3 linked regions of the Homo sapiens genome follow. The gene in region 3 interacts genetically with the main gene of each other region. Each region holds a gene or a part of one and is shown on either strand. Other genes may lie near its edges.

What was found.
Region 1: changes in POMC (region 3) and TPSAB1 together harm fitness more than expected from each alone (negative genetic interaction), as found in Homo sapiens cells (one large-scale study listed by BioGRID).
Region 2: changes in POMC (region 3) and ITGA6 together harm fitness more than expected from each alone (negative genetic interaction), as found in Homo sapiens cells (one large-scale study listed by BioGRID).

What each region holds. Positions count from the first base shown.
Region 1 is NC_000016.10:1,239,179-1,243,179, forward strand, and holds TPSAB1 (tryptase alpha/beta-1 precursor), read left to right. Parts: upstream 1-1,526; 5' UTR 1,527-1,550; intron 1,551-1,760; coding exon 1,761-1,821; intron 1,822-1,974; coding exon 1,975-2,146; intron 2,147-2,255; coding exon 2,256-2,521; intron 2,522-2,648; coding exon 2,649-2,812; intron 2,813-2,897; coding exon 2,898-3,062; 3' UTR 3,063-3,376; downstream 3,377-4,001. UniProt on the Homo sapiens protein: Tryptase is the major neutral protease present in mast cells and is secreted upon the coupled activation-degranulation response of this cell type. May play a role in innate immunity.
Region 2 is NC_000002.12:172,500,492-172,503,831, forward strand, and holds part of ITGA6 (integrin alpha-6 isoform b preproprotein), read left to right. Parts: intron 1-1,280; coding exon 1,281-1,388; 3' UTR 1,389-1,410; intron 1,411-2,816; exon of another isoform or gene 2,817-3,340. UniProt on the Homo sapiens protein: Integrin alpha-6/beta-1 (ITGA6:ITGB1) is a receptor for laminin on platelets. Integrin alpha-6/beta-1 (ITGA6:ITGB1) is present in oocytes and is involved in sperm-egg fusion.
Region 3 is NC_000002.12:25,160,217-25,162,980, reverse strand, and holds the end of POMC (pro-opiomelanocortin preproprotein), read left to right. Parts: intron 1-1,228; coding exon 1,229-1,900; 3' UTR 1,901-2,121; downstream 2,122-2,764.

The sequences.
Region 1 (4,001 bases), on a different chromosome or scaffold from region 3:
AGGCCTGACCCAATCGGAGCATTCCTAGGAGGAGCGGCCCCAGAGCCCCTGACTCGGGGGTCCCAGAGCCCTCTGCACACCACAGCCCCGGTGTCCCCGTGTGTCCCTGGGTTCTCCCAGCCCTGGTGTCCCCTGAGTCTCTTCTTCACCGTCAGCCCTGGTGTCTCCCGTGTCCCTGCCACACCCTCATCCCTGGTGTCCCCCGTCACCCCATCCCCTCACCTCCTGGGCTCCTGAAGGTCCCATCTTGTGGGCCTCATTCATGGAACCAGGACGGGGCAGGTGGAGGCCTCTGGGGAGTTTGTCCAGAGAATGGAGGAGAAGCAGGGTCATGAGCAGGAGCGGTCTGGGCCACCCCTGCCTGTCCCCCGGGGGGTGCAGCCCGGAAGGAGTCCAGATGGATATGGCCCCGCAGTGCAGAGTCAGCCCCAAACCAGGCTGGTCCCAGGCAGGGTGGGGGCAGGAGGAGCCCCGGAGTGGCCCTGTGTTGGGGGTCGGGGGGCAGGCAGGGGGTCCTGGGGCTCAGAAGCGGAGGAGGTGGGCTGGAGGCCCCAGTGACCAACAGGCCCAGGGGAGTCGGGAGGTGGGGTGGACGGACCTGCAGGGACAGTGTCAGCGCTGAATGGGATGGAGAGCACAGGGAGCTGGGGCCGGGGATGAGACCATGGGGAGCTGGGGCTGGGGCTGGGACTAGTCCATGGGGAGCTGGGGCTGAAGTTGGGGGTGAGTCCATGGGGAGCTGGGCTGGGCCTCCTGGGGTTGCACCTGCACTCCTCTCTGCTCTTCCCTCTGCGTATGAAGCTCAGATCCCATGATAAGGAGGCACCTGCAGACCAGGGGACCTGCACGGACAGCCCCAGAGGTGGACATTGAGGACTCGTAGGAGGACTTGGGTCTCATACGGCGGGTGGGGAGCAGGGCCCCTTCCTGGCTGAGGACACTTGGTGCTGTCCCCTCTCAAGGCTGTTTCCCCATCTGACAAAGGGGTCTCACGTGAGCCCCCAACCAAGTGAGTCGAGGAGGGCTGGCCCCACCCCCGTGGATTCGGAGTCCGTAGGAGGGGTGTCACCCGTCATGTCCCCACCCCGTGGGCACCTTCCCGTCTCTTGGAGCGTGGCCCATGGACATGAGTTCCTCACCCGTGTCCCTCTTGGGGAAACAGGTTTCAGGAGCGACGGGTCTTGTAGCCTGGGGCAGCCAGGCCACCTGGGTGCAGCAATGCCTGAAGGCCTCCTGGCACCGAGACAGGGGCAGGAGCAGATCCCACCAGCGGGAAGGTGGTGGGTTCCAGTGCTGGGATCCACCAGCTGACAGGTGGAGCTGCCAGTCTCCAGTGCTCAGCCCTCAGCGGGGCCTGCCTGGCAGCCCCACACACAGAGGGCATCGGGGTGGCGGGGGCACGTGTTACACGGGGGCCCTGGGTCTGAGTCATCCACTTCCTCCGAGTCTGGATGGGAGGACCCAGCGCCCCTCCTCCGCCCCCTCCTGATCTGGAAGGATAAATGGGGAGGGGAGAGCCCACTGGGTAGAAGGAACAGGGAGCGGCCAGGGTAAGTCCCCACTCTCAGAGACCCTGACATCAGCGTCACCTGGAGCAGAGTGGCCCAGCCTCAGACTCAGAGCACCAAGACCCAGGCCCGCAGGCCTGGACCCACCCCGGTCCCCCCGTCCCAGCTCCATTCTTCACCCCACAATCTGTAGCCCCCAGCCCTGCCCTGTGAGGCCCGGCCAGGCCCACGATGCTCCTCCTTGCTCCCCAGATGCTGAATCTGCTGCTGCTGGCGCTGCCCGTCCTGGCGAGCCGCGCCTACGCGGCCCCTGGTGAGTCCCAGCCGGGGTCCACCCTGCCCCTCACCACATTCCACAGGTCAGGGCCTGGGTGGGTTCTGGGGAGGTCGGGCTGGCCCCCACACAGGGAAGGGCTGGGCCCAGGCCTGGGGCTGCTTCCTGGTCCTGACCTGGCACCTGCCCCAGCCCCAGGCCAGGCCCTGCAGCGAGTGGGCATCGTCGGGGGTCAGGAGGCCCCCAGGAGCAAGTGGCCCTGGCAGGTGAGCCTGAGAGTCCACGGCCCATACTGGATGCACTTCTGCGGGGGCTCCCTCATCCACCCCCAGTGGGTGCTGACCGCAGCGCACTGCGTGGGACCGTGAGTCTCCCGGGGCCTGGAGGGGTGGGGAAGGGCTGGATGTGAGCCCTGGCTCCCGGGTGCTCCTGGGGGCTGCCCAGGGCCCTGAGTGGGATCCTCCGCTGCCCAGGGACGTCAAGGATCTGGCCGCCCTCAGGGTGCAACTGCGGGAGCAGCACCTCTACTACCAGGACCAGCTGCTGCCGGTCAGCAGGATCATCGTGCACCCACAGTTCTACACCGCCCAGATCGGAGCGGACATCGCCCTGCTGGAGCTGGAGGAGCCGGTGAACGTCTCCAGCCACGTCCACACGGTCACCCTGCCCCCTGCCTCAGAGACCTTCCCCCCGGGGATGCCGTGCTGGGTCACTGGCTGGGGCGATGTGGACAATGATGGTGGGTCTGGGGACAGTGGAGGTGGGGCCAGGGTCTTAGCCACAGCCCAGCCCCTGGGCTCCCTCTGGGCTCCAGGTGGGGGTTGCCCGGCCCCCTCCTGAGGCTGCACCCTCTTCCCCACCTGCAGAGCGCCTCCCACCGCCATTTCCTCTGAAGCAGGTGAAGGTCCCCATAATGGAAAACCACATTTGTGACGCAAAATACCACCTTGGCGCCTACACGGGAGACGACGTCCGCATCGTCCGTGACGACATGCTGTGTGCCGGGAACACCCGGAGGGACTCATGCCAGGTGGGCCCCGCCTGTCCCCCGCCCCCCGCCCCCCAACCCCCACTCCCAGGCCTGTTCGGCGAGCGCTGACCTCTGACCTTCCCAGGGCGACTCCGGAGGGCCCCTGGTGTGCAAGGTGAATGGCACCTGGCTGCAGGCGGGCGTGGTCAGCTGGGGCGAGGGCTGTGCCCAGCCCAACCGGCCTGGCATCTACACCCGTGTCACCTACTACTTGGACTGGATCCACCACTATGTCCCCAAAAAGCCGTGAGTCAGGCCTGGGTTGGCCACCTGGGTCACTGGAGGACCAACCCCTGCTGTCCAAAACACCACTGCTTCCTACCCAGGTGGCGACTGCCCCCCACACCTTCCCTGCCCCGTCCTGAGTGCCCCTTCCTGTCCTAAGCCCCCTGCTCTCTTCTGAGCCCCTTCCCCTGTCCTGAGGACCCTTCCCTATCCTGAGCCCCCTTCCCTGTCCTAAGCCTGACGCCTGCACCGGGCCCTCCAGCCCTCCCCTGCCCAGATAGCTGGTGGTGGGCGCTAATCCTCCTGAGTGCTGGACCTCATTAAAGTGCATGGAAATCACTGGTGTGCATCGCTGTGTTTCTGGTTGTGGATGTCACTGGGAGAGAAGGGGTCCAGGTGTGCTGAGGACACCTGCCACAGTGTGAGGTCCTAGCCCTCAAGGCACAGCCAGTCACCGTGGGACGGGGCCTCCTGGGCAGCCCTGGTCCCCGAGGCTGGCTTCTCCCCACACGATGCATCCAGCATTCGGGTCACACAGAGCCACTCGGGCAACTCAGTTGATTATAAAGGACAGCCAGGTCCCTGCAACCGGGTCAAGACAGAGAATGGTCGCCGGGAGCCCCAGGGCTGCCCATCATGAGCCCCTACCCCACGCTTCCCACGAGCTCTTCTCCCGGCCCCTCTGTCCACTGCTTGTGCTTTGCCTAGTTGTTTGCTTTGAGACGGGATCTCGCTGTGTCATCCAGGCTGAAGTGCAGTGGTGTGATCAGGGCTCACTGCAGCCTTAACTCCTGGGCTCAAGCGATCCTCCCATCTTGGCCTCCCATATAGCTGGGCCACAGGCGTGAGCCACCACGCCCAGTTAATTTTTGTATTTTCAGTAGAGATGGGGTTTCGCCATGTTGGCCAGTCTGGTCTCGAACTCCTGACCTCAAGTGATCCGCCCGCCTCGGCCTCCCAAAGT
Region 2 (3,340 bases), about 150 Mb from region 3:
TGGTGGCGGGCACCTGTAGTCCCAGCTACTAGGGAGGCTGAGGCAGGAGAATGGTGTGAACCTGGGAGGTGGAGCTTGCAGTGAGCCAAGATCGTGCCACTGCACTCCAGCCTGGGCAACAGAGTGAGACTCTGTCTCAAAAAAAGGAAAGAATGTTGCCAAGTTGGAGGCAGGACCAGGCCTCTTGGCTCCTGGTTTATTCTTCTTCCCACCCTATTTACTAGCACATATTATTGAAAGCTGCCCAACAAAACTCTATACTGATGGAAATGTTCTGGAGCTGCAGCATCCAGTATGGTAGCCATTAGTCATGTGTGGCGGTTAGGCACGTGGAATATGGCTGGTTCACTTGAGGCACAGAGTTTTAAATGTAATTTAAATTAATTTCAATCTGAATAGCCTCACGGAGCCAGCAGCTCCCATATATTGTACAAAGTGAATCTAGGCTTTTACCTTCATGAGTTGCTGGACTAGGAATCAGAGTTTTTCAGGAGATTTTATTTGACCAGGTTAAATTTTATAAAAGACAGTTCCATGGCCTTATGAACTAGATAAAAGTAAATAGGAAAAGTTCTCTATCACTGAACGAAGGAAATTATAGTAGAAAGTGGAATTATACTTTTATACTCATTTAGAGTGACCTAACCTGAGGAGCATTGGGTCCCTACCATTTAAGGGTTTTATGGTGCTCAGAGTTTGGGAAAATGACAGCAATCATTCTTTCATGATGGTGTATTCGAATTTGTATTGTGATTCACCCCACAGATCCAAAGGCCTCAAGTAAATGGCATTTGTTCCATAAAATTTACTGTAAAAGGCAGAAAAATACCCATAGTATATCTATATTTTATTTGGATTTGTGCTTTTATTTAGAGAATTTATTTTCTAACCTTTGTCTCAATAAACTGCCGAAGTCAATCTTTTGCCTCTTTTGGAGTTCATATTCTCCTGCAGGAAGAAACTACCCAAAGCTACAATCAGCAATGTATATACGTTTTCCCTATTAGAATGATTTTTGTCCACAAGATTTCTGTTACAAAGAGAAAAATCAATGAGCTGACTAGTGTCATCCATATAAATATTTGACCAGAGATGTATGGTGAAGGGTGTATTGAATATGACAATGAAACAATGCAGTGGCTGTTCATTGTTGGTTGACTGAAAGTGGTCTGTTTGTAAACAAGCCACTAGTAGAAGGCAGATTAAAATTTGAGATGTTCTGTTGTTTGGCTCTTATACACAAAACTGTAAAATTGACTAAATACCTTGCTTCCTTGTAGTGTGGTTTCTTCAAGAGAAATAAGAAAGATCATTATGATGCCACATATCACAAGGCTGAGATCCATGCTCAGCCATCTGATAAAGAGAGGCTTACTTCTGATGCATAGTATTGATCTACTTCTGTAATTGGTAATTGATCAATGTTTTTTAATTGCTAGCTGTGGGACCCGCTATGGTTGTGGTGGCTAACTTTAAGAACAACAGCTTGCTATGTGTGTCCCATTAACAGATGTTTCCAAATGTCCACACTGGCTTGCCTTGCTTGGATTTGTTTTATTTTATTTCACTTGAAAGCTCAGTTTTTGTTTTTTTTAATGCACAGTCTTTCGTTGCAGGTGAGTTATTTTATGTTCTTGTTAAATATCTACCACAGCAATGAAGAAAATTTGCAATATTTGTACACACAAAAAGAGACTTTTAGCCCTCCATAGTAGCCCAGTTTGCAATGTGTTATTAATTCGGTATGTAGCATTCCACTAGGGAATTCAAAGATGCATAAGAAATCATTCTAGATTTCTTGTCCATTTTGGAATTTTCCACAGATAGAAGCTGTGTCGACCGCCTAATTAACCTGTTGCATGTTGGAAATGTTGTGTTTCTCTTGGTGAGGCTTCCTCACTGTCATCTTTTTGTTCTCTTTGCTATAAAGTGATGGGGAAGGCTTGGAATGCTTTTTACTGTTGCTCAGGAATCGTTTTATGCTAGCTAAGCATGCAACTTCCATTTCCTGCATGTCTCCTACAGGTCAAAGACCATTACAACAAACTGATTATCAGCATGATGGGCTTTTATGGCCAACTTCAGAAGATGATCCCTTACCAAAGTTACCTTCCATCTACAAAATTCTAGTACAAAAAATACCCTGAACAGTTTTTATTGCAATATGTTGTGATGGAGTTTGACCATATTTCATGTATCCAGAGATTTTATCCAACCTTGGATCTCAGTTGATTTTAAATTCAAGTTTCTCTTATTTGGAAATACATGGAAATAGGAATTGCTAGTGATCCCTTTCACCATTTACGTGGGCATGAGAGGACAGAATTACTCCTGTAATCCTTTCCATGGCACTATCACAGTGAATCACAACATTGCCATTCAGCTTTACATATTACCCTTAATTTCCCTCTTTGTTTAAATGGGGTAGACAGCAGTCATATTTTGTAATAGATAGGTACTTTGGCTTTTTTTTCTTTTTTTTTGCACAGAATAATAAATGAATCCATGTAGAAATGACCTGGAACAAAACATCTTGGTCCATTTTGCCTATTGATTTAGTGATAACTATACATATAATTTTATCTTGCTCCATGGCATTTTTATAACATAACATCATTCAACATAAATGTCCTGTTACTATTGACGTCACACAATAAACACATTAACAGTTCTATCAATATCCTCATTCTTCTAAACTGCATTTTAAAGTTGAAAACACCTTTTTTTAAAAAAAGTAAATATATTTCATTTAAAAATTTAATCTCAATTCAAATTTTTTCAGATATATTCTCAGTAAAAATATACTTTGGATCAGATTGACTATTTAAATGAATTTTATATATATATATAAACACACACATTAACAGTTTAAAGGTAAATGTATTTTTGCAAAAGAAGAGAAATTAGGGAGTGCTCTGAAATTCAGTGTAGTGATGCACTTCTGAAGTCCTATGCAGCACATGATTTTTATTGCAGGAAACAGTTACTATGTGATTAATGAAATAGCTTAATTAGAAGCACAATAGCAAATCCAGGCAACATAAATGACCTCCTGGCTAATGAGAGAAGTGATATGTGTACTAGAGCCTCAGAGGAGAGAAAAAGATTATAAAGTTGACCTGTTGGAACACTGGCATATTCAAATAGTAATTTGTAAAATACTTGTGACATGATTTGCATTTTATTAGTGGGAAAGGGGCATGAAATAATCTTTGGTTTATGCCATTTAAAAATTATTCTTAATCTAATCTGATAATCAGATATTTTACATATCATATTGTGATTATTTTTAAATATGGAAGCACTGTTTTCATAAACTCTTAAATTGTTAGTAAAGAGG
Region 3 (2,764 bases):
AGAGACACAGGTTCCACAGACGGTGCAATGGAAATAACGCTAGCTTTCCACCCCTCCCTCCAGTCAGAATGAGATTACAGGGAAATAAGCTTGCCCCAGAGCTCACTGGGGGATCTCTCAGAAATCAGCTCAGAAGTCGTGAAAGAACCAAGGTGCAGTTTTGGAGGCTTAGTGCAGAGATGGAGCTGGGGTAGGGCATAAAGTAGGTTTTTCATCACTGAGGTAAGGTTGAGGCATTATTTTTTATTTTTTGTTTATTTATTTATTTTTTTGAGACGGAGTCTCGCTCTATCACCCAGGCTGGAGTGCAGTGGCGCGATCTCCCCTCACTGCAAGCTCCACCTCCCAGGTTCACACAGGTTGAGGCATTATTAAAAATATGTTTAAAAATATGGGCCCTAGTAGCCAGACTTCTATCACCTGGAGAGATTATCCCCCAAATTTCAGCCCCACTCCCCTCCTGGACTTGAATTAAACCATATGTATTTATTCAATATTCTTTTTATTTATTTATTTATTTTTTTGAGACGGAGTCTTGCTCTGTTGCCCTGGCTGGAGTGTGGAGTGCAGTGGTGTGATCTTGGCTCACTGCAACCTCTACCTCCCAGGTTCAAGCGGTTCTCCTGCCTCAGGCTCCAGAGTAGCTGGGATTACAGGCGCCCGCCACCACACCCAGCTTATTTATTTATTTATACTAGAGATGGTATTTCACCATAGTTGGCCAGGCTGGTCTTGAACTCCTGACCTCATGTGATCTGCCTGCCTTGGCCTCCCAAAGTGCTGGGATTATAGGTGTGAGCCACCGTGCCCGGCCCTCAATATTCATTAAGTGCCAACAACTACCACCCGTCTGCCTTTCTTGGAGCCACTCCTTTATGTCAGGCATATAACAGTAAGACTTTGGTCCTGTTCACAAAAGCTAGGGGTGGCTAGATGGCTAGACAAACCATGGAATGGGATGGGAAGTGTGTTGCAGTTGCCAGGCAGAAGCATGAAGGGGATGGGACAAAAGAGGCAGTGGCAAGATCTTAGATGCCCACGAGTGCCAAGAAAGCAGGTGGGCAGACCTGCTCTGTAGGGAGGCCTCGACGCTTGACACGCCCGACACTGTGCCCTGTGTCCTCGGCACGTGGCGAGGGCGGCCAGGGCCTAGGCGCAGTGACGGGCGCGGCAGCCGGGCCGGGGTGCGGGGCACGGGCTGCCCTCATGCCCTCGCGTCTTCCCCCAGGAGTGCATCCGGGCCTGCAAGCCCGACCTCTCGGCCGAGACTCCCATGTTCCCGGGAAATGGCGACGAGCAGCCTCTGACCGAGAACCCCCGGAAGTACGTCATGGGCCACTTCCGCTGGGACCGATTCGGCCGCCGCAACAGCAGCAGCAGCGGCAGCAGCGGCGCAGGGCAGAAGCGCGAGGACGTCTCAGCGGGCGAAGACTGCGGCCCGCTGCCTGAGGGCGGCCCCGAGCCCCGCAGCGATGGTGCCAAGCCGGGCCCGCGCGAGGGCAAGCGCTCCTACTCCATGGAGCACTTCCGCTGGGGCAAGCCGGTGGGCAAGAAGCGGCGCCCAGTGAAGGTGTACCCTAACGGCGCCGAGGACGAGTCGGCCGAGGCCTTCCCCCTGGAGTTCAAGAGGGAGCTGACTGGCCAGCGACTCCGGGAGGGAGATGGCCCCGACGGCCCTGCCGATGACGGCGCAGGGGCCCAGGCCGACCTGGAGCACAGCCTGCTGGTGGCGGCCGAGAAGAAGGACGAGGGCCCCTACAGGATGGAGCACTTCCGCTGGGGCAGCCCGCCCAAGGACAAGCGCTACGGCGGTTTCATGACCTCCGAGAAGAGCCAGACGCCCCTGGTGACGCTGTTCAAAAACGCCATCATCAAGAACGCCTACAAGAAGGGCGAGTGAGGGCACAGCGGGGCCCCAGGGCTACCCTCCCCCAGGAGGTCGACCCCAAAGCCCCTTGCTCTCCCCTGCCCTGCTGCCGCCTCCCAGCCTGGGGGGTCGTGGCAGATAATCAGCCTCTTAAAGCTGCCTGTAGTTAGGAAATAAAACCTTTCAAATTTCACATCCACCTCTGACTTTGAATGTAAACTGTGTGAATAAAGTAAAAATACGTAGCCGTCAAATAACAGCAGCATGGATCGGAGGAGCACAGTGGTTTCCATGCGGTAGGATATTTCACAGGACTTAGTGAGCGTGAAAGGAAAATGTGCTTCCTGCCCCCACCCCCAAATGGATCTTCGAGGGATCAGATAGTTTGGGTGAAGGCACAGGGTGGCTCCAGCACCTCTAGGATGGCCGTATTTTCCACACACTCCACTGAGTGGGAGACTGCTCAGCTAGCACACGTGTAAAGGCAGGATTCCTGCAAGAGTGACCCCGGGCGCTCAGGGGCTCCCCGGCTCCGGTCCACCTCCAAAAGCCAGTTGGACAGGTTGAGGCCTACCCACGCCTGGGAGTGCTCTGGACTGTCAGGTGAGAAGTCTTGGTAATGTCTCCGGGGAACTGCTCGTAGCAATCCATGGGACCTTAGGCAAGTCTCTGAACTTCTCCAAAATTTAGTTCTTTCATCTACCCCTCCCTTCCCAGTATGAGGGTTATTGTGAAGATTAAAGGAGAAAATGGACATAATCTTCTTTTTATCATAGAAGCTAAGTGTGAGAGCTGAGGGTTAGTATCAGTTCCAATTTCACTCCCAGGCTACTCACAGATACGCTCAGACATACGGTCTCTCTCACACACACACACTCATGGAGACACACATCTGTT